Regions from separate parts of the Homo sapiens genome. Here region 2 is linked to region 1. The links come from fine-mapping of genetic effects on gene expression. Tissue or cell type: whole blood. Region 1 holds a variant in brackets; the other region holds the start of a gene. All regions are shown on one strand. Distances are between the middles of the regions.

Region 1 (9,783 bases):
TATTTAGAACTGTGGCTCCCTCGTGCCAGCAGCTCTCTGCTATGCCCACTGACCATCGGCGTGCTCTTGGTGGCTAATTAGGGAGACTTCTTCCTGGGACCCGGGAGACAGACTGGAATGTGAGCACTGGTTCCCAGAGAGCCCATCCGGGAGGGCAGCGGGCAAGGCCTGTGGCTGCAGAGACACACAGTGGCTGCTGCTTATACCCTCCGCAGAGGCCCTGCTGCCACCCAAAGACCCAAGGAGAACCCGAGGGTGGGTCCTGCCCCTGACTTCCTTTAACCTGACTGCTTTTCTTGACACTTAAACGGTTTCATTGCAAATTGGAGACACTGCCAGAGTACCGGATTGGACATGAATCTCTGGTCTTCCCAAAAGTCAGGCAGAGATGTGGAGGGGCCCACAGTCACAGGGCAGATTCCTCACCTGCAAAGTGGCCATGCTCATCGCCCCATCCAGGAGCCTGCAGTGCAGCTGGGCTGCTCCTCCTGCCCAGGCCCCATTCGGGCCACAGACCCCATGATCTGAGGTGTCACATGTGGTTCATGACACCTCCCATGTGCTATCTTGGTCTCAGGCCCCACGCATGGTCAGCCAAACTGGAATCCAGGGTGAGGAGGCGTGTGCTTTCATCTGCCGGCCTGTCTGGGGAGGCCACGGAGCAGCAGCACATCCTTCTGATGGGTTAACACCTGGGTGATACCAGCCCAACCTGATATCCCACCCACATGTCCAAAGATAGCACTCACATCTCAACCTGCCTCCCTCCTCGCTCTCCTAAACTCCAGACCTAGAGACCCAGCTGCTTCCTGAGCACCTCCCATTATATGTCCCCCAAGGAAGCGCAAATCTAGCCCCACCAAAACGCGATGCATCCTTTGCCATCCCCCGTTTCGCATCCTCTGCTCAGAGCTGGGCACCACCATCCGAGGGTCCGCAACATCCAAAAGCTCCCTGCTGCCTCTGAGGCCTCCTGCTTCTGCCAGGGCCCTCCCAAGAGGGCTCAGAGCCTGGAATAGGAATTAAATGAGGGCCTTGTGAGGTAGAAATTCCCAGAGGAAGGGCGAGGTTACCCAGAAAGGTCTAGAGAGACAAGCTCAGGTCCATTTGGGTGGACTGAAGTCCAAGCCCAGGTCTGCCCCTTGGCCAATGCGTGACTGTGGGCAGAGGCAGCCCCTCCCTGAACCTCAGGAATGATCACCACCCAGCACCTGCTGCGTGAGGCCACTGGGAGCTTTGTGGAGCCAGCACACTGAAGGGCCCACTCAATTACGGGGACCCTTCCTGCTACCATCACAGCTCCCGAGAAACCTGAAGTTGCCCCGCTTAGCACCCCAGGTTTAATTTTACCAGCTCTTTTTTCCCTCCAAGAGACAACCACTCCAGGCTGCCCTCACCTGCCCAGGCCTGGAAGCAGCCCCCTCTGTCCTGGGGCCGGCTCCTTTCCAGGCATGAAGCTCAAACAGGCGCTGTCAGTGGGTCCAAACCATCGCAGCCCCGTCAAAGGACCCCTGTGTGAGCCTCAAACGGGGCATTGATAGGGCCTCAGTGAGGGCTGCCCAGGCGATCGTGGGCTCGCTTGGCTTGGCTAGCCATGCGGACTTCCCCAAACCCAGCTATTTCCTGTCCCTCGGGTGGCCCCCTCCCAGCTGCCTGGCCACAGGGCACAATCCCACTACACAGCTCAGCCTGTTCTTCGGCTCCAGGCCAGAGGTGGGAGTCGGGGAAGGCGGGAAGGACGGGAGAGTCGCGCCGGGAAGTTCAGGGCCTCCTGGTCCTTGTGACACACGCAGCCATGGCCCTTCAATCTCCTTGTGATAGGATGCAAGGCTGGGCCAATGTCTCTCCTCCCGTGACCTCTGCTCCCAATCCACACTTGCCGGGGCTTCTCAGCGGGCCCTCTTCCCATGGGTCTTTGCAAGAAGCAACAACTGACACAGACTGGGCCCCAGCCCGTCTAAAAGCCTCCACTCGGAGTAGAAAAAAAAGGTGCTTGGTCTCATCTCTGACCACTGTGTGGCCTCAGGAAAGTCACTTGATGTCTCTGGGCCTCTGCCCTCAAGTGTGAACAGGAGCTCGCTTTCCATTTCTGTGAATTACACTGCACCAACTGCTTGGGGGTCTGATAAGGAGCAAATAACATCCATGAAGAAATCTGCCATTCCACAAAAAAACTGACACCACCAGAAGGTTGACAATGCCTCTCAAACTCATCCCCGTCCCTGCCGCCCCATAGGATGACTTCCCCAGCCTTTGTAGGGGTCCCTGCATTTGGGCTCTTCCTTCCTAAAACCCAAACCTTGTAACTCCTTGGCCCAAAATCCTTCAAAGACACCTGTCTCAGGATTAGTCCATGTTCCTCGGTGTGACATTCAAGGCTCTGAGGGCTCTTTTGGTATTGGTGACAGATCCCAATTCAAACAGCCCTGGTCTCTTTATTAACTTTACTTTCAGGTAAGTCCTCAACAGCTCAGCCACACCGGGGAGAAAAGATAAGAGATGGAGAAACAGAGAGACATTATTAAAGAGTTGTAGTCCTGGATCCTGCCATACCTGAAGCCAAAAATCCCTGGATTTTTTATTTGTATGAGAGCCAAGAAACATCGTGAACCACCTTCTGGTTTCTCATAATAAACTTGGCTCATAAGGCTTCTGTTACTTGCAACCATGTCCTTCCTGTAAATTCCCTTCTTGGCTGAACTTAGCCAGGGTGAGCTTGCACCTAAAGAGCCCCACTGTGTGCAAACACTCTTCCTGACCCAGCCCCACAGCGGGCCGACCTCTTCTCCCTCCCCTCCCCACTTGCAGCCACGCTGAGCAGCTCGCCCCAGCTCCTCTCCCCAATGCCATAGAGTCTTTGCGTGTCCTGCTACCTAGACCTAGAGCACCCTTCCCATTCTGCTTACTGCTGCCTTCTCATCCTTCAGACTCCACTTGGTGACAGCCTCCAAGAGGCTTTCTCTGGCCCTCAGGCCACGTCTGAGGTCCCCTAGGCTTTCCCTATCGTGGCAGCCCTTTTGCAGATCTGTCCCTCCTACCGCAGACTGGGGGGAACTGGAGGCGAGTCTCATCTGTTGAGGTCTTCCCCAGTGTCCAGAGCAGGACCCAGCCCCAGGGGAGTGGAGTGCACGCCTGATTAGGGAGACATCAGGGTGCATCATCTTGGGCTGTGGTTCATGATCAGACAGCATTGGGTCAGGACCACCCCTCGCTCAGCATGGCCCATGGGAGGAGTTTCTGGATGGAGCAACTAGGTATGTGTGAGTGTTTACATGGGTGTGTGGGGGTGGGCGTGTGTGGAGGGGTGTGGGGGGTGTGAGTGTGTGGGTATATGGGGGGTGTGTGGGTGTGTAGGCGGTGGGAGTGAGTGTGTGGAGGGGTGTGGGGAGGGTGTGAGTGTGTGGGTATGTGGGGGGAGTGTGGGTGTTTGGGTGTATTTGTGGGTGTGTGGGGGTGGGTGTGAGTGTGTGGAGGGGTGTGGGTGTAGGGGGTGTGGGTGAGTCCTGGGGTGATGGAGGTAGAAGGCTGGTCTCCACCCTCCCTACACTGTATTTCCAGAAACACATCAGCCAGACAGAAGCTTGTTGCTGCTTTATTGAAACTTCCTCCCTGTCGCACACAAAGCAATTACACAAGGGGGTATTGCCAGGGAGCTCTTGCAGAGCCTTCTCCCTCTGTACCCCCCGACAGTCCCCAGAGACCCTGCCTCCGTGGCCTCCACCTCTGGGTCAGCTCCCTGGAGGACCCCGACACACAGGGAAGCAGGCACAGGAGGGCTGTTGGGGCCAAACCTCCCCAGCTGCCACAACCGCCATGACCCCAGTGGCAGGGTCAGTGCCCACAAGGGGGTTGCCTGCTTTGACTGAACTAACCTGTGGGTTTAGTCCAACGAACAGATGTGCCTGATTTCAGGGCTGAATTTTTGCTTGACCACAAGCCTCGGGCAGAACAGATTCGCCTATGACTGAATCGACTGAATGGATGGCCAGCGACAGCCTGGCCTGGGAATGGACTGGCAGCTCATCACTAAAATGACTCCTTTCATGGAATCCACTG[T/C]TATGCAGCCACACTGACCACAGAGCAACTGAATAGGTGAGCATTGGATTGTTGATGACAACTCTTCAGCAGAACAATTGTGTGTTTGAAGGGACTGTTTTATGATGAAATAACTGTTATTTCCTGGAGCTAATTGTTGAATGACAGTTTGTCAACTGTTTAAATGAATTTCATTTGAATTAACAATTATACAGCCACTCAGAGGTCCTACATTCGCCAGAGTTGGCATCCAGTTGATGGGTTCATTTGAATTAAATGGTTTGGAGGCTAACGTGATTTTTTAAATTGAATTTCATCACTATTCTGTGTATTCTATTTATCACTATTCTAAATGACTCATGGTTGGCTAATTGATTATCATGTAAGCAAGCTATTTGAAGAAATTGATTACATATATTTATATATAGGGGGTAACTAATTAATGATTACTTGATTAAATTGCTATGTGAACTGACAACTATTTATAAATCAATGCAATAGACTGTTGTTTGACCAAATTATTTTACTGAACTGACAAGTGGGTTTTTGATTTGTCAGTTGCTTGGCTGAACTGATCAAGTCGATAGTTGCTTGACAAACTCACCAACTTTAGAATGGCCAATCGTCTAAACAAGTGTCAGAGCTGATTGAAATAAACCAAGCATTGTTGGGCTGAATTATGGAGAGACCCGAGGAGTGACTCAGCCTAAAGCGTTGACCCAGTTGTGAGCAGCTCACAGGCCCTGCAGGAGGAGCAGGCCAGCGAGGGAGACACAAGCAGATTGTCCTGCCAGGGAGGGGCGGGAGGGCCCACCCAGGCCACAGGGGCCACCAAAGCAAAAAAGCAGATTATGAGGCAGCTCCACCCCTCCCAGCACTGGGGCTGGGGCCTGGCGAGGGTCACACCTCTGAGTATGGGGGTGGTGCTGGGCCCCCCTCTGGGGTCTTCGATGGCAAAGACAGGGCTTCCTCGTAGGACGGCAGGACCACCTGGGAGAGACAGAGAGATGAGGGCTGAGTATGGTCAAGAATGACCTGCAATTCCAACCTGGGGTCATGGGACCCAAACCCCCACCTCTGGCAAAATGATGATGATAATGACTGGCAGGTCTTGGATATTTGCTATGTGCTAGACATTGCCTGCATGAGATAGGTGCAGTTCCCAGCCCTGTAGTGGACATATTTGCCTTTGCCTATTCAGCATCAAGTCCCCCTTATTTTGAAAACAGTGCACCATTTTCCTTGGGAAAACATTCTCAGTCCATATACCTTCAGAAGAACTGGTCCCATCCCTCAGATCCAGCGAGGTGGCTGGACTTGGCCACTCAAAGTAGAATTCCATCCCCCTGGCTATAGTCCTTGGTTTGGGGATAGGCACGTGGCCCAAGTTGGTCCAATCAGACATACTCCTGGGACCTTCTTTTTCTGTTGGGATTTCTGAGAGGGTGGGATATCTGCCTAGGGGTTTTGGCAGCCTTTTTGCCACCACAAGGGATGGGCTTCCGGAAAATGAAGCCAACATCAAGGAAAGTAGAGTCAAGAGTTGGAGAGGACGAGATCATATCCTGATGTCAGGACTCAGCCAGGCCCAAGCCAGACCTACATTTGGCTGCTAAGTTCTGTGAGCTAGTAAATTCCTGAAGTCAGATTGAGTTGGGTTTCTGCCACTTGCAACCAAAAGTGTCTTAGCTAATACAATCTCCACCTTACAGGTGAGGAAAGTAAGTTACCAGGAATTTAAACCGTCACTTTCCAATAAGCTGCTTCTAAGCACACCTCATCCTCTCTTCCCGGAAAGCCTCCTTCTGCTTTCCCAGCTATCTCATATCCATTGACCCTCCAAGACCAGTTAACTGTCACCTCCTCCAGGAAGGCTTCCCTGATACCTGAGAAGAGGCCAGGTCCTTCCTCTGTGCTTATTGTCCCTGTGCTTCACACCAAGTTGTAATTGTATCTATGTGTCTGAACTGTACACTCCTCTAAGGCAGAGGTGGCATCTTAGTTTTCTCTGCGCCTCCTGGAATCGATATGAGACTAGCAAAGAGTGAGAGGCAGTAAATACTGAATAAATGAATGAGTGAGTGAATGAATCTTAGACTACCAGAACTGAAAGAGAACACATTTCTTCTGTTCCAACCCTCATCTTACAAATAGAGAAACCAAGGTCCAGAGAGGGAAGGAAACTTGACCCAAATGGCACAGGGAGTTAGTGACAGGGCTGGCACCCACCTGCAGCCACACTCACCTTCTGGAGCATCTTGGAGTTTCTCTTCTCCTCCACCGAGTTCATGCACTTGATCAATCTGTAGCACCGCCACACGCACTTGAACATGTAGACCTGGAAAAAGGCCCAGGTCAGGCTGTGCTTTGCTGAGCGTCCTTCTCACGCTCCAGCAGGCCTAGGACATATGCCAGGCAGGAGCCACCACTCTCTCCAGAAGCCAGCATCCAGCTGCTCCTGCTCGGACCTCTCATTCTGGTTGGGGGTTCCTCACCAGCCAGTCCAGAATATTCCAGGTATTGCCCTTTTCATTGCCCCACAGATACCACATAGCAAGGGGATTTGGGGGGCTTCTAGCCCACCCTCCAATTTCCCTGGCAATAGTCCCACAGCTCCTGCTTGACTGCCCACACTGCCTGGAAGCTCACTACCTCCTGAGACAGCCCTGCCCATCTCGAAACAGAGCTGATGGTGGGACATGTTTTCTTCAAAATTGCTTCCGATATGTTGTTTTCTGAAGCAGATTACAAAACAGCATGTGCAGTATTGGTCCATGTTTATAAAGGAGGAACAGTTAGTACATGTCCATCAGCTGATGCAAGTTAATGTAAGAATTGGGCAGAAGCTTTCCAGAGTGGGGCATACAATCCCAAGGGGCAAGCTCAAGAAACAACAGAAAACCCCCAGGATGCCCCCTGAGTAAGAGGAGAGGGTCCTGTACTGGAAGGTCTTGTTTGATGGATTCCCTGATGGGCACATAGGTGGGGCAAGGAGACATATGGAGGTACGGAGTGACAAAGAATGAAGCATGAAGGCCCAGGGAAAATCAAGTCGGTGGAGGGGGCCAGAGAGGCAGAATGAGGGTCAAAGAGGGAAGCCCCTCATTCTGGAGGATAAAAAACAGAAGGGGAGCTGGGGGACGGAGCTGTGTGCTGGGGTCTGCGGAGGGGTCCTGCAGTAGAGAGTGCCATGGAAAGCCCACACTGGCTTCCCCCATGAGGCCTTCAGGGGTGTTCTCACTGTACACTCACTAGTGCGTTTGTGCTAGGTCAGTCCTTGGAGAAGATGCTAAAAGGGGCAAGGTTCTGTTTCTAGGTTGGCATTAGGTGACAGCAGAGACTGCCCAGGGCCTCAGATGGAAGCAGGAGCTGGGGTCTGCAGATGCCCACCCACCACCACAGAAAGGCTGGGGGGAAATGCACCCAGTTGTCAGCAGTGATGCTCTCTGTGTGGGGTGTGGATGGTGGAGTGCTTGTCTTCTTTCTACTTATCTGTAGTTTTTTGGTTTTTGTTTTTTGTTTTAGAGAGAGATTCTCACTCTGTCGCCTAGGCTGGAGTGCAGTGGCATGATTATGGCCCACTGCAGCCTCAACCTCCCAGGCTCAAGCGATCCTCCCGCTTCAGCCTCCCTAGTAGCTGGGACTACAGGCACACGCCACCACATCCAACTTTTTTTTTTTTATGTTTTGTAGAGACAGAATCTTGCTATGTTGCCCAGGTTGGTTTTGAACTCCTGGCCTCAAGCAATCCTCCCAATTCAGCCTCCCAAAGCACTGGGATTACAGATGTGAGCCACCACATCCAGCTCATCTGTAGTTTTTAAATTTCTACTATGACCTATGTTACTTTTATAATCAGAAAAGAACACTTTTTAAAAGCCCTTCCTTCTGTGGTCATCAGCATCCCTGTGGCTTCAGGCCACAGGCCCCCATTGTGGCCTCTAGGATCCCACAAAATTCCCCACAAGAGTTCTTCAGGTATTAAGAAACAGCAGTCAGGTCCCCCTTGAGTCCTCTATTTTCCATGCTGAATAAACGCTCAGGTCTTTGTTGGGTTTTGTGGGGGTTTTTTGACTTCCTAAGATGGCAGCGTTTTCTTGTCTCTTCACGTTGCTGGTTGTACTGCTGTGAACACACTCCAGTGCTTCACCATCACTCAGACCTGGGACCTGAAGCTGGACCCTATCCTCTGGGCCTGACCACCCCAGAGAAGAATGAGACCATTCCCCTCCTGCCTTCTCATCACCAAACCTCTATTAACATAATCTCAGGTACATTTTGATGCCTGAATTACATAAAACTGTAACACAGGCAAAACAAGACTCCTGCCCCTGAGGCCCAGAGAGAAGTGACTTGCTGAAGACCAACCACGCAGCTAGTGACAGTGGGGCTTGGATTCAAACGCAGGCCAGTCCAAATCTAATTCCAGACAGCTGGAATTAGACATCTGAACGCAGGTGGCCTTTACGGATTCACATGCCCTAAATGGGCTGTCTCGGAGGATCCCAAGTAAAGTCAGAGGAGCTGGCATGGGAAAGCAAGAGAAAGGAGCTAAAAGCAGGAGAGGAGGCATGGAGGACACATGTCCCTGCCTTCTAACAGCTTGGCATGGGCAGGCCTGGGCCCAGCACAGCCTCACCACCCCTCCCAGAGCCGCAGGGCAGGGATCCACTCACCTTGAAGATAAGGACAGTGATGAAGGCGATGGAAAAGATGATCATCATCTTGATGAACTGGTTATGAGGCATATCCTCCTGGCTGGGGAGGTAATTCTGCAACAGATTTGGGGGCCACATCAATGTCTCTGGACATAAGGAATTCCAACAGCACCCACACATCCGGGAATAATGATCCCACCCTCCACACACACACGAGCACAGCGTGGCACAGCCGTCACCTTGGTCGACCGCCACAGCAGCCTTAGGAAGCAGGTGCTACCTTCAGCCCCATCCCACTGACGGGCAAACCAAGAAAAGCCAAGTGGCTACTATCTCCAGATCTGCTTCCCAGGCTGGCGCACCGGCCCATCCCCAGCTGGCAGGTGTCAGCTGCCCATGGGCCACACCTATGCTCTTCTCTACAAGATCATTTTGGCTGACAGGGACCACCTAATCCACTAATACCTGGGAGGTTACATTCCCTCCCCTAGGGGCAGCTTGAAACCAATGACTGATGCAGGGGAACTCGCCCTAGGTGAGACTGCCTCTGTGGTCATTTGCAAATATTACCACACATTCTTTGAGACGCCTCCCTTCTAAAGGTGGTGTTTATTTCCTCTCCCCTTGAGTGTGGGCTGGACTTAGCAACGCACTTCTAACTAACAGAATGTGGCAGAAGTGATAGAAGTCTTAAAAGACACTGCCTTTCCTCCTTGCTTATCTCTTACATCACTCCCGCAGGGGAAGCCAGCAGCCATGTCAGGAGAGCACTCAAGCAGCACTACTACAAGTCCACAGGATGAGGAATTAGGCAAAGAGCCCACGCCCTGTGAGTGAGCCACCAGGAGTTCATCCTTCAGATCTAATCAAGCCCTCAGTTGTCCACAGCCCCAGGTACCATCTCTGGTGCAGCCCCACCAGAGTCCCTGAGTCAGAAGAACCCAGCTAAGCCACTCCCAAGCTCCTGATCCTCAGAAGCTGTGTGAAATAATAAATGTTTATTGCTTTAAGCCATGATGCTTAGAGATAATTCATTAGACAACAATAAAAACTGATATTATGTCTGTGTTGCAATTCACATGCCAAAGCC
Region 2 (9,783 bases), 24 kb after region 1:
TTGCTTGGAGCAGCATAGTGACTTCCTTCTAAAACATACAGCATGGAAAGGAGAAAAAAAGAGTAACTTTACAAAGGAGTAACCTCAGCCGGGGGCTCAAAGTCACCAGCAACAGTGGTAAGTCAAGTTGGCAGAACCTTTTCTTAGTACGATGTTCTGAGACTGGCACATCATCTCTGTGGTCTTCCTCCCAAAAGCACATTCCCAGACTAATCATGAGAAAACCACCAGAGACCCCAGTTGAAGAACATTTGACAAAATGCCTGACAAATACTCCTCGAACTGTCAAGATTATCAAAAACAAGAAAAATCTGAGAAACCATCATACCAAGAGGAACCTAAGGAAGTGTGAAGACTAAATGTAACGCGGCATCCTGGATGCAATCTTGGAACAGAAAAAGGATGTAAGAGGAAAGCTGGGGAAATAGGGGTGAAGCACTGACTTTAATAACAGCCCACGAATATTCATTCACCCATTGCAACAAACGCACCACACTAACGTTGAGACGTTAGCAATAGAGGAACTAGGCATGGGGGACGCAAGAACTATCTGTACTGTGTTTGCAATATTTTCGTAAATCTAAAACCGTTCTAAGTACGTGCTCATTGTACCAAATATGGAAAATACAGAAAAGTAGAAAAAATAGAGCTTTCACTATCCTAGAACCCAAATACATTTCCTCCTCGCCCAGTTTTGACGTATCCTGTTTTGACACTGTTGAAATCATAGCAGGTGTTAAGTTTTTTAACCCAGACAATGCATTTCTGACAGTGGAATTCCGGGCACTCTGGGGAAGAGGGGTCAGGAAGAAAGAGATTTCTGGGCAAAAGTGTCTTCTGGGGGTGTCCACTTTCTACCATCGACTTAGAACGTGCTTCAGGTTGACAAAAAGCCAGGACCCAAGAGACCCAATTTAAGAAATTTCTCTAGACTGGGCTCGGTGGCTCATGCCTGTAATCCCAGCGCGTTGGGAGGCCAAGGCAGGAGAATCACTTGAGGCCAAGGGTTTGAGACCAGCCTGGGCAACATAGTGGGACCCTGTCTCTACAAAAAAAAATATTTAAAATTAGCTGGCCATGGTGGCATGCGCCTGTGATCCTAGCTACTCAGGAAGCTGAGGTGGGAGGATCTCTTGAACCCAGGAGTTCAAGGCTGCAGTGAGCTGTGATGGCACCACTGCATTCCAGCCTGGGTGACAGAGCAAGACCCCATCTCTTAAAAACAAAAACAAAACAAAACAAATCAAACCACAAAAGATGGGCAAGTTACTGAACTTTGAAAAAAAGAATAGATTTTTTAAAAAAAGAAAGAAAGTTTGCTGGGTTCCCAAAGTGTGCAAGTTTGGGTGACCCAGAGAATCCTCTACACAAACCCACTGACATCCTGAGGAAGATGCCCGAGCCCAAAGCTACGGACCAGGCTTCCCTCATGTAATAACGCCCTCATGACTCAATAGAGCGTGGCACTGTCTCAGGATGGCAAGGTCTCAATTTAACCCTCCCTAGAGGGGCCAAGTCCACAAATAGCTCATGATGTGCAGAGTCGTCACCCATGGCTGGGTCCAGATGACAGCCAGCATGGGCTATTGACACATCTGGACCACAGCTTCTCTTTTTCCATCCAGATGCTCAAGGTCCTATCAGCACACCTGTTGCCAGCTAGCCTATGGGAAAGCCCCCAGGCCCTGCCCTTTCTGGGAAGGAGAGAGGACTCTTTCGGGGTGCAGGAAGATAACCCCCCACTGGAGTCAACTGAGGACCACAGCCTGGAGACAACCTGGGCCGAGCGCACAGCTTCCAGGACACCCCTCTGCTCTTTTGCTTGCTCCTGCTCTAGAACGTCTCATCACTCATAGGCATTGGTTCTCAACTGGGAGAGATTGGGCCCCATAACTAGAGACATTTTTGGTTATCACAAGTGGCAGGGTAGGGAGATGGGCAGTGCTGCTAGTATCTAGTAGGTAGAGACCATGGATGCTGCTGAACTTCCTCTAACGCACAATTCACTCCCCCAAGATGAAGAATTATCCAGCCCAAAATATCAATGGTGCACTGCAGAGAAGATCCAACTTCTTAGCTTGTCACTCAAAACCTTTATCACCTCCTCCCCAAACTCCAGGTTTGTCTCTATTGTGTCCCTGTAGAAGCCGAACACATACGCCATTGCTCACCTGTTTCTCCTCACCTTCCATACTGCCCACAACCAAACTCTCCCTCCTGCCAATGGCACCACCTCCAAGAAGTCTTCCATGATTGCTAGGGCCCACACATTCTTCAGCTCTGTGAGCAGGGACCGTATATCACACCACCATTTACAGGTGAGGACATCGGATGGCACGATCAACAAGAAACCTTAACAGCCCCACAGTCCCGGGTTTGCAGGGCAGCCTCTGGGCCCACACAACCTGCAAATGGATTTGACTTGGCCTGCACTGAGATTTTTTTCTACCATGCATCAATCACTAGCATTGAAACATCAGAAGATGTGACACAAAAGCCTGCTCCCTATTCTCTAAACATCAGAAGAGCGGCCACCAGGGCCCACAATCCTTCGTGGCAACAACAAGCAAAAACAGAGAACAGCTGCAGGGTGGGCCAAGCAAGGGCTCCCGGGGTCACCGCAGGCCCCATCTGCCCCCTGCTGTCACTCACATGGCCTGCCCAGACCCTAGAGGCATCAGAGTTGGAGACCTCTGAGCCAGTCAACATCACCTTACCCCTGACTTTATAAAAGGGAAACTGAGGCCCAGAGAGAGGCTTGTCTGAGCCCATACAGCCAGTTAGTGGCAGGGCTGGGGTGAGGACCCAGGGACTTGCTACCTGTGAGGCGCCCCTGCATGCCACACTGTCCTTCTAAGAATGTGCATAGTCTCAGAGCTTGAAGGCCTAAAATACAGGGTACAGGGACACTCAAAGAGTGATTTGCTTCTCTCAGCTCTTGCATTGGCAGGAGCTCGGAAGGACAACCTCTGAGTTCCTCCTCCCAAAACTAGAGTCCTTGAATCTGACAACTTGACTCCAAGGATGCTGACAGCAGGTGCCATGTCTGATGCACAACGAATAATAAAGCACTCACCTGTGCGTCAGGCGTGGTTCTGCATGCTTTGTATGTATCAACTCCCTGAGCCTCACAACAAACCCTATCAGATGGGTATGATAATTCACATCCCCATTTTTTTAAATGAGAAAACTGAGGCTCAGAGAGGTTAAGTAAATTGCCCAAGGCTGCAGAGCTGGGAAGCAGGGAAGCCAGGATTTGCATGCAGGAGTCTGCATCCAGAGGCCGTGGGCTAACCACTGAACAGCATCGCCCCCCTGAAGGCTGGGCTCTTGCCACAGCTCTGCCTGCCCTGCCTGTGACAGGAAGCAGACGCAGGCAGGTCTGAGTTTGCAGCAACCCACCGCAGCATGTGGATCTAGGCTAATTTTGAGGAAGCCCTTCCAGACTCATGAGAAAACTGTTAACCACAGGCCCTGAGTCACCCCAGGAGGAAGTCGCTTGGGTCTAGGGGAGATGAGTGTGGCCAGGAGTTTGGGAGTAGGGTGGGTCTAGGCAGGACAGTACAAGGACACTGACCCTCAGCCACCCCAGGCAGAGGGGCAGCCTTGGCCCCCGGGCACTGTGACTTGCCCAAGACCACACTGTGAGTCACCAGGAAAGGAGGAACCAGTGACAGCCGTGACTTCACAAGTTGCCCAACAAGAGCTTGGGCCGGACAAGTTACCCTAATGATTAGCACAGGTCTCAAGTTCTCTTTGGTGGGCAGAAGGCCGTGGTTTGACTGAGCTGGAAGCTGAGAGGACACGGCCCCTGCCTCCCCACTGGAGGCACAAAGGGGAGATCCCCACTTCTCATCCCCTCGAGTGGCCCAGGCTCCCTCCAGGCCCCAGGGGAAGAATCGGGGCTGTGTCTGCGGCCGACCTCACATCCCGGTCAAACAATCCCAGCCCACGTTCCTCCCAAGATCCCTGCCTTCCAAAGCACTTTCACATCTGCTGTTGGCTTTGCACACAAATAACCTTCCGGCTGCTGCTGTGCCCCATCTCACAGAGGCAGAAACGGAGCCAGCCTCGGAGTGAACGTCAGTTACATTTGCCTGGAAAGTGGATTCCAGCTCCCTTACTCCTCACTCTTGCGGCATCTCCCCAGGGTACCCCCAGCCATTTGACAGAGAAGGAAACTGAGGCCCAGAGCAGGACAGGGATTTGCCCAGGGTCCCCCAGAGAGGTGGAGAGCAGGAGTTCTTTCATTTGTGGGGCTCCGTAGATGACGGGTCACCGCAGACATTCACACTCACACAAGCACGCACGCACACACACCCGGGGCCCGCACACTCACCACATGGTAGATGGCCAGGGCGGTGGTTGCGATGCGGACATTGAAGCAGCAGCAGGTCTGGCGGACAGTGGACAAGCGGGGGTCCATGGTGCTGCCGTCCCCTCCTCTGAGACACTGAAGGGGAAAGAGCCTGGTGCCTGGAGCAGGGCAGAGAAGGGGAAGCTGCTGGCTGCCCTCCTCACTTCCTTCCTGCCCCTTAGACAGGCAGGGACAAGGTCGTCACAGCTGGGGCGGGGCAGCTGGGGAGGGGGAGTGGGGACAGGGCAGCAGCCTGCCTCAGAGCACCCCACTGCCCTCTGCCATTCCCAGGAGGGGGTTCCAGAGAGGACAGACCCTAACACGGTCATCATGCCCTTCTCTGCACCAGGGCCAGGGTTCCACCGTTTCACACAGCTTGCTTACTAGAAGAACACTACCAACTTTGGAAGCCAGGACTGTTACCAAGCCCATTTCCAGATGAGGAAACAGCTGTCCAGAGAGGTCAAGGCACTTGCCCCAAATCACACAGTAGTTAGCACTGGTGGCAGAATTCAAACCCAGATCTGTCTGGCTGCAAAAATAGCTATTGTCTAGGAGGCATTTCCTGCCTCTTCCAGGCATGCTCCTGGATTCACTCCTTTCATCCTCACCTCAATCCTTTGAGAGAGGTACTATTATGATCCCCATTTTACAGATGAAGAAACTGAGGCACAGAGAGGGGGAATGATTCGTGCAAGGTCACACAGCTAGTCAATGAAGGTGCAAGGATTTTAACTGAGGCTGACTGGTGCTAGAAGCCTCCCTGGAGCTGGTGTTCTCTCCCACTTCCTCACCCTGAGCCGCAGGGAGAAGCTTGTTCTTCCTAAGCTACGAAGAGGCGTGCAGGGCTCCAGACAAGGACGGAAGAATAACCAGGAAGCAAACCCATCAACTGTGCGCCAGGCCCTGGGCTAGGCTTCTCTTCTAGGTGGGTCAATAACTCTTCACAGCAATCTGTGAGACCCGAACCTCACTTTCAGGGCCTCAAGACCCAATCCCCATACTCACACAAAATCAGGGATTGCTTTTCCCCCTTGATCTTGCAAAAAGTTGGAATTAATAAGCCACAACTCTTAGGCAAGCTACCCTGGAATCTCTACTCCCTCCTCAGATGATAAATTATCCATATTGCAATAAAGAAAGGGAATAGGAAGTACATGCAACATTTCTGGAAGAAGCCCTGCTTCATTCCACAGCTGAGCCCCTTTGCAATGCCAAGCTTCTAGTGCAGAGCAGACAGGAACTGCCATGAAGCCCTGCCCTCCCAGGAGATCATGGAGTTAGGATTGGACACTGCTGCAGCCCATCATTTCTGCCCCAGGAGAGGTTATAGAAAGTCCCTAAGCTCCTCCCACTTGGCAGGAGTTGCTCTGTTAGACCCACAAAACTTGATTGGTGGACTTGATCAATCCATTCTCCATGTGCCAATGAGACCAAGGGGACTCTGCAAGCTTTGGGCTCCTGGGAGGCCTGGCCTATCCCTTCCCAACTTCATTTTCAAGGCTGTTCCTGTTCCTTCATAAGCCTTGCTGAGGCCTGACATCATAGAAAGGTGACACAGTGCAGTGGTTAAGAACTTTGGCTCCACAGGCCCATGGCCTGGGATCTTCTGGCTGGGTAGGCAGAAAACCAAGAGAAGTCCTCCTTTGTCTAAGAGTAGCAAGACCAGAGGAACTGGAGATCAGGAAACCAGGGGCCAGGAGGGCCCTGAGGCCATGCTGGGGAGTCTGCATTTGATTGTGCACAGAAGCCATTTGACGATTTCCTACCATAATAAATGATAGCCATTCATAACATTGTGATTTGGTGAAACCAGGACAGGTGCAAAGCCAACTCCCAAAGAGAGGGATGAAACACACTGACAGCATGTGGAATAATTGTACATGGTCTATGGGTAAACATTTCTCATTTTTTATGGTGATAAATTCATTTTAATGTGCATTATAAAAATATACATAACTAGTCCATGAATCCTGTGATTTTCCATTTATAGGAGTAATATAAAGTCTCATTTTAAAAGAAATGCATTTAAATAAAAAAGGCAGTAAGTCAATTTAAAGAACATATTAAGGAAGCCACAGCCTAGGAGGACGCAGATGTGGCAGACAGCCCTGGAGGTGGAGTAGGTGGCATCCGTTTGGGAATCCTGGGGCATGGGGAATCCCAGCTCCCCACTTAGTAGCTGTGTGGTGTCAGACAAGGCACTTGATCTCTCTGAGCTGTTGTTTTCACCTCTGCAAAACGGCGGGGCGGTTGGGGGGAACAGAAATTTGCCTGGCAGGGCTGCGGTGAAGGTGAAATGAGGTCACGTGAATGCATCTGTTTGTTTTCTCCCTTCCAGCCCGTCCCTGCTCCCCGATCTCACCCGTACTCAGGCTGCTAGGAGGAGGCAGAGCTGGGATTGAACCCCTGATCTGTCTGATTCTGAGTCCCCTCGGGCACTACCTCCCTCGCAGAAGCAGGAGTTCTGATGCAGTCATTTGTCTCTCACCGGGTCACCAGGCTCCAGCACACACTGGCCCCTTGGCAGGCACCTCAGTCACTCCCTGTGGAGTACAAGCCTGAATCACTTTATTGTCATTCCCAACAAACCCCCTGTGGAGAGGACGGCTATTATCCCAAAGGTCAGACCCTTTGGCCAAAGCCACTGTGATAGGCAGAATAGTGCCTCTCACCCCCCAAAAAAAATCCACCCTAATCTCTGGAACCTGTGCGTACATGGCCTTACATGGCAAAGAAACTTCACAGGCGCCATGAAATTCAGGATCTTGAGGTGGGTGGGGAGATTATCCTGCATTATCTGGATGGCCCTGAGGTCATCAAATGGGTCCCCATAAGTGAAGGAAGATCAGAGTCAGAGAGGGAGTGGAAGATGCCACACTCCTGGCTCTGCAGTTGGAGGAAGAACCATGAGCCAAGGAGTGCAGGCGGCATCCAGAAACTGGAAAAGGCAAGGAAATGGCTTCTCCTCTAGAGGCTCGAAAGGGAATCACTTTCATTTTAGCTCAGCGAGGCGCATTCCTGACTTCTGGCCTCCAGAACTGTAAGACAATAAATGTCTGTTGTAGTCACTGTGTTTCTGGTCTTTTATTATAGCGGCCGCAGGGAACAAATACAGCTGCTCAGTGGAAGCAACAGCTGAGCCTGGGGCCCCGTCGCTGGAGCCCAACACACTCCACCGAGACCACAGTCCCCATCTGCACAAGTGCAGCCCTTACTTCCTTGCTGTGTGACCCCAGCCAAGTCGTGAACTTCCCTGAGCCTCCGCTTCCTCCTGCGCCAAGCGGGGATAATGATAATGCCCATCTCGTTGTCTGTACATGCAGGTGGCAACACCACATAAGCTCACTATTTATATTCTGCTGTTTTCCGTTACGAATGATAAGTTTTGAGCTTCTTCAAGTTGCTTTTCATACCTTCTTTGTGGAGTGGTAGAACCCTTGAAAACTTCAGACCCTCTGAATTCATCAAGATAAGGACAAGGAAATGTTCCATGCCACCGCAGCCACGGCAGAGCAGATACAAATCTGCTTGTCAAACTGCCCTTGTCAATGTTATTTCTGACAAAGGAATCTTCTAAGACCCCCTGACTTCAGACATGGTTCCCAGATCCTAGAGAGTCATCTTTAATCCTGAAAAGGTCTGTAATTCTGGCTGGTTATCTGGCTTAATAATTTGCTGCCATGGTATATGAATATTTAAACAGACAGCTCTGTTTCCTCAAAGGCAGAATTAGTTGTAAGCTTTCTTTGTTAAGTCAGAAGAACATCACTGGAACTTCCCTCTTCACCCATAGGCCTGGAGGTAAAAATAAAACCCACGACTCTGCCAGCTTTTGTATTTAAACAAAGAGTTTGGGAGTCTTGTGTCCTTTCCATTAACCTAGATGAAGCACTTAGAAGGGGCTGGGTCACGGTAAGGACTGCACAGTGGGAAGCATTTTGATCACGATTGTCACTATGATTCTTCCTGTCCTTTAAACCCTTTCTCAGCTGAGCCTCCCCCAGCCCTAGCCAGCAGAGGAAGGCAGCAGAGAGGCACTGATCAGCTCCCGTAGACCCAAGGGGCCAGTGATCTGCTGCAAGACACACAGCTGGTCAGGAGCAGAGCCAGGACACAGGTCCTCCTTGGGGACAGCTTCGTGGGCGGCATGTGAGTGGTGGCAGCCAAGGTAGCTCCAGGGCTGTCTTCTCCCGAGGGGCTCCTGGGTGCCCCCTGCAGCTCACCCAGGCTGAAGGTCAGCTTCCTGCCAGACCACTGGCCTGTGATTCCCTTCTGGCTGCAAGCCCCACCTCACTTCTGCCTTTGAGGTTTGGGGCTGGAATGTGTAGGGCCAAAGCCAAAGGCCTGAAAAATGTGAGAAACGGCAGAGCATTCTCTCCTGTCTCCTGCCCCGAACCCAGCACGGTCACCAGGGGTCAGGGCCTACACGTGCAACCCACAGGGTCCCTCCCCTACTCCCCTGCCTGTGGAAGGGGCCCAGGCCTTGAAGTCAGCCTGGAGGGTCAGCCTGGCAAGGACAGCCCACAGGCCTGTGGCCTGGGGACAACCAGACCTTCCAATGACCAGCTGCTGAGTCCAGTGGGCAGGCAGGGGACCCCAACGGTCTGCCAGACACTCCAAGGAGGCCTCCCCTCAGCCAGGCAGTCCAGGGGTCCCTGGCTGCACCCAGGGGCACAATGACACCATATCCTAGTCTGCTGCTGCCACAGGCACTGCAGGCTGAAGGCTCCAGGGAGATGGGACCAGCAGGCAGAAGGAGCACTGGCTGCAAAGTCTGCATAGCCGAGCCAGCAGCCTCCTGCTGAATAACAGCTCTGGGCACACCCCAGGACGGAGCATTTTAGATCATGGGTGCAGCCGTACTATCCATGGGGAGCTGGAAAACCCGGCTCCCTCCTGGCCCTGGTCTCCAACCAGCCTCTGCCTCACTCTGAGCTGTAGAGTGGGGATTGTCATAGCGCATCCAGTGTGCTGCTGCAAGGACTAGGTAATTCCCTCCTAAGCACCAGCCTCTGCCAGAGCCCCCTCCTCCCTGCTGCTGACCTCATCCTCAGGAAAAACCTCAGAGATCCAGGCACCTTAAGAAGTTGGTGGCAAAATAGCACAACTGCCATCAACACCACAGTAGGAGTTACCTCATTAGGTCATTCCCCCAGCTAGGGGATTTTTATTTTAAAAAATGAAACAACAACCACTAGCAAACAACAAAAGTGATAGGCCCCACTGAGGACCAAATCTGGGGCCAGGCTTTAGATACCTAAAAAAGAAGAAGAAGAAGAAGAAGCAAGGTAGAGAACTACTACACATGGTGTGCGATTTAGTCACTTCTAGGAAAGCTGCAACTTTCTTGATTTGAAAGGGACAGACTTCATAAGCACATGTCTTCTACCCATTGTCCTAACTCCCTTCGACCTTCTGTAAAT

What was found. PIP is the estimated chance that this variant, and not a neighbour inherited with it, causes the effect.
Region 2: LAPTM5 starts here. The variant in region 1 is fine-mapped to the expression of LAPTM5 in whole blood (TOPMed, PIP above 0.99).

Annotation. Positions count from the first base shown.
Region 1 is chr1:30,728,893-30,738,675 of GRCh38, forward strand. LAPTM5 (lysosomal protein transmembrane 5) reads right to left here. Exons shown (of 8, transcript NM_006762.3): 6 at 8,712-8,807; 7 at 6,281-6,373; 8 at 3,577-5,025. The coding sequence ends at 4,936. Among named protein-coding and RNA genes, the nearest start is that of MIR4420, 5.4 kb to the right of the region's middle. RefSeq lists enhancers at 1,321-1,450, 1,601-1,710, 3,380-3,885, 3,886-4,391, 4,432-4,933. The variant T/C (reference allele first, on the strand shown) is at 4,057.
Region 2 is chr1:30,753,320-30,763,102 of GRCh38, forward strand. It overlaps LAPTM5 (lysosomal protein transmembrane 5), which reads right to left and starts at 4,455. Exons shown (of 8, transcript NM_006762.3): 1 at 4,340-4,455. The coding sequence starts at 4,426. RefSeq lists enhancers at 1,726-2,075, 2,547-2,596, 3,262-4,058, 4,187-4,466, 5,535-5,604.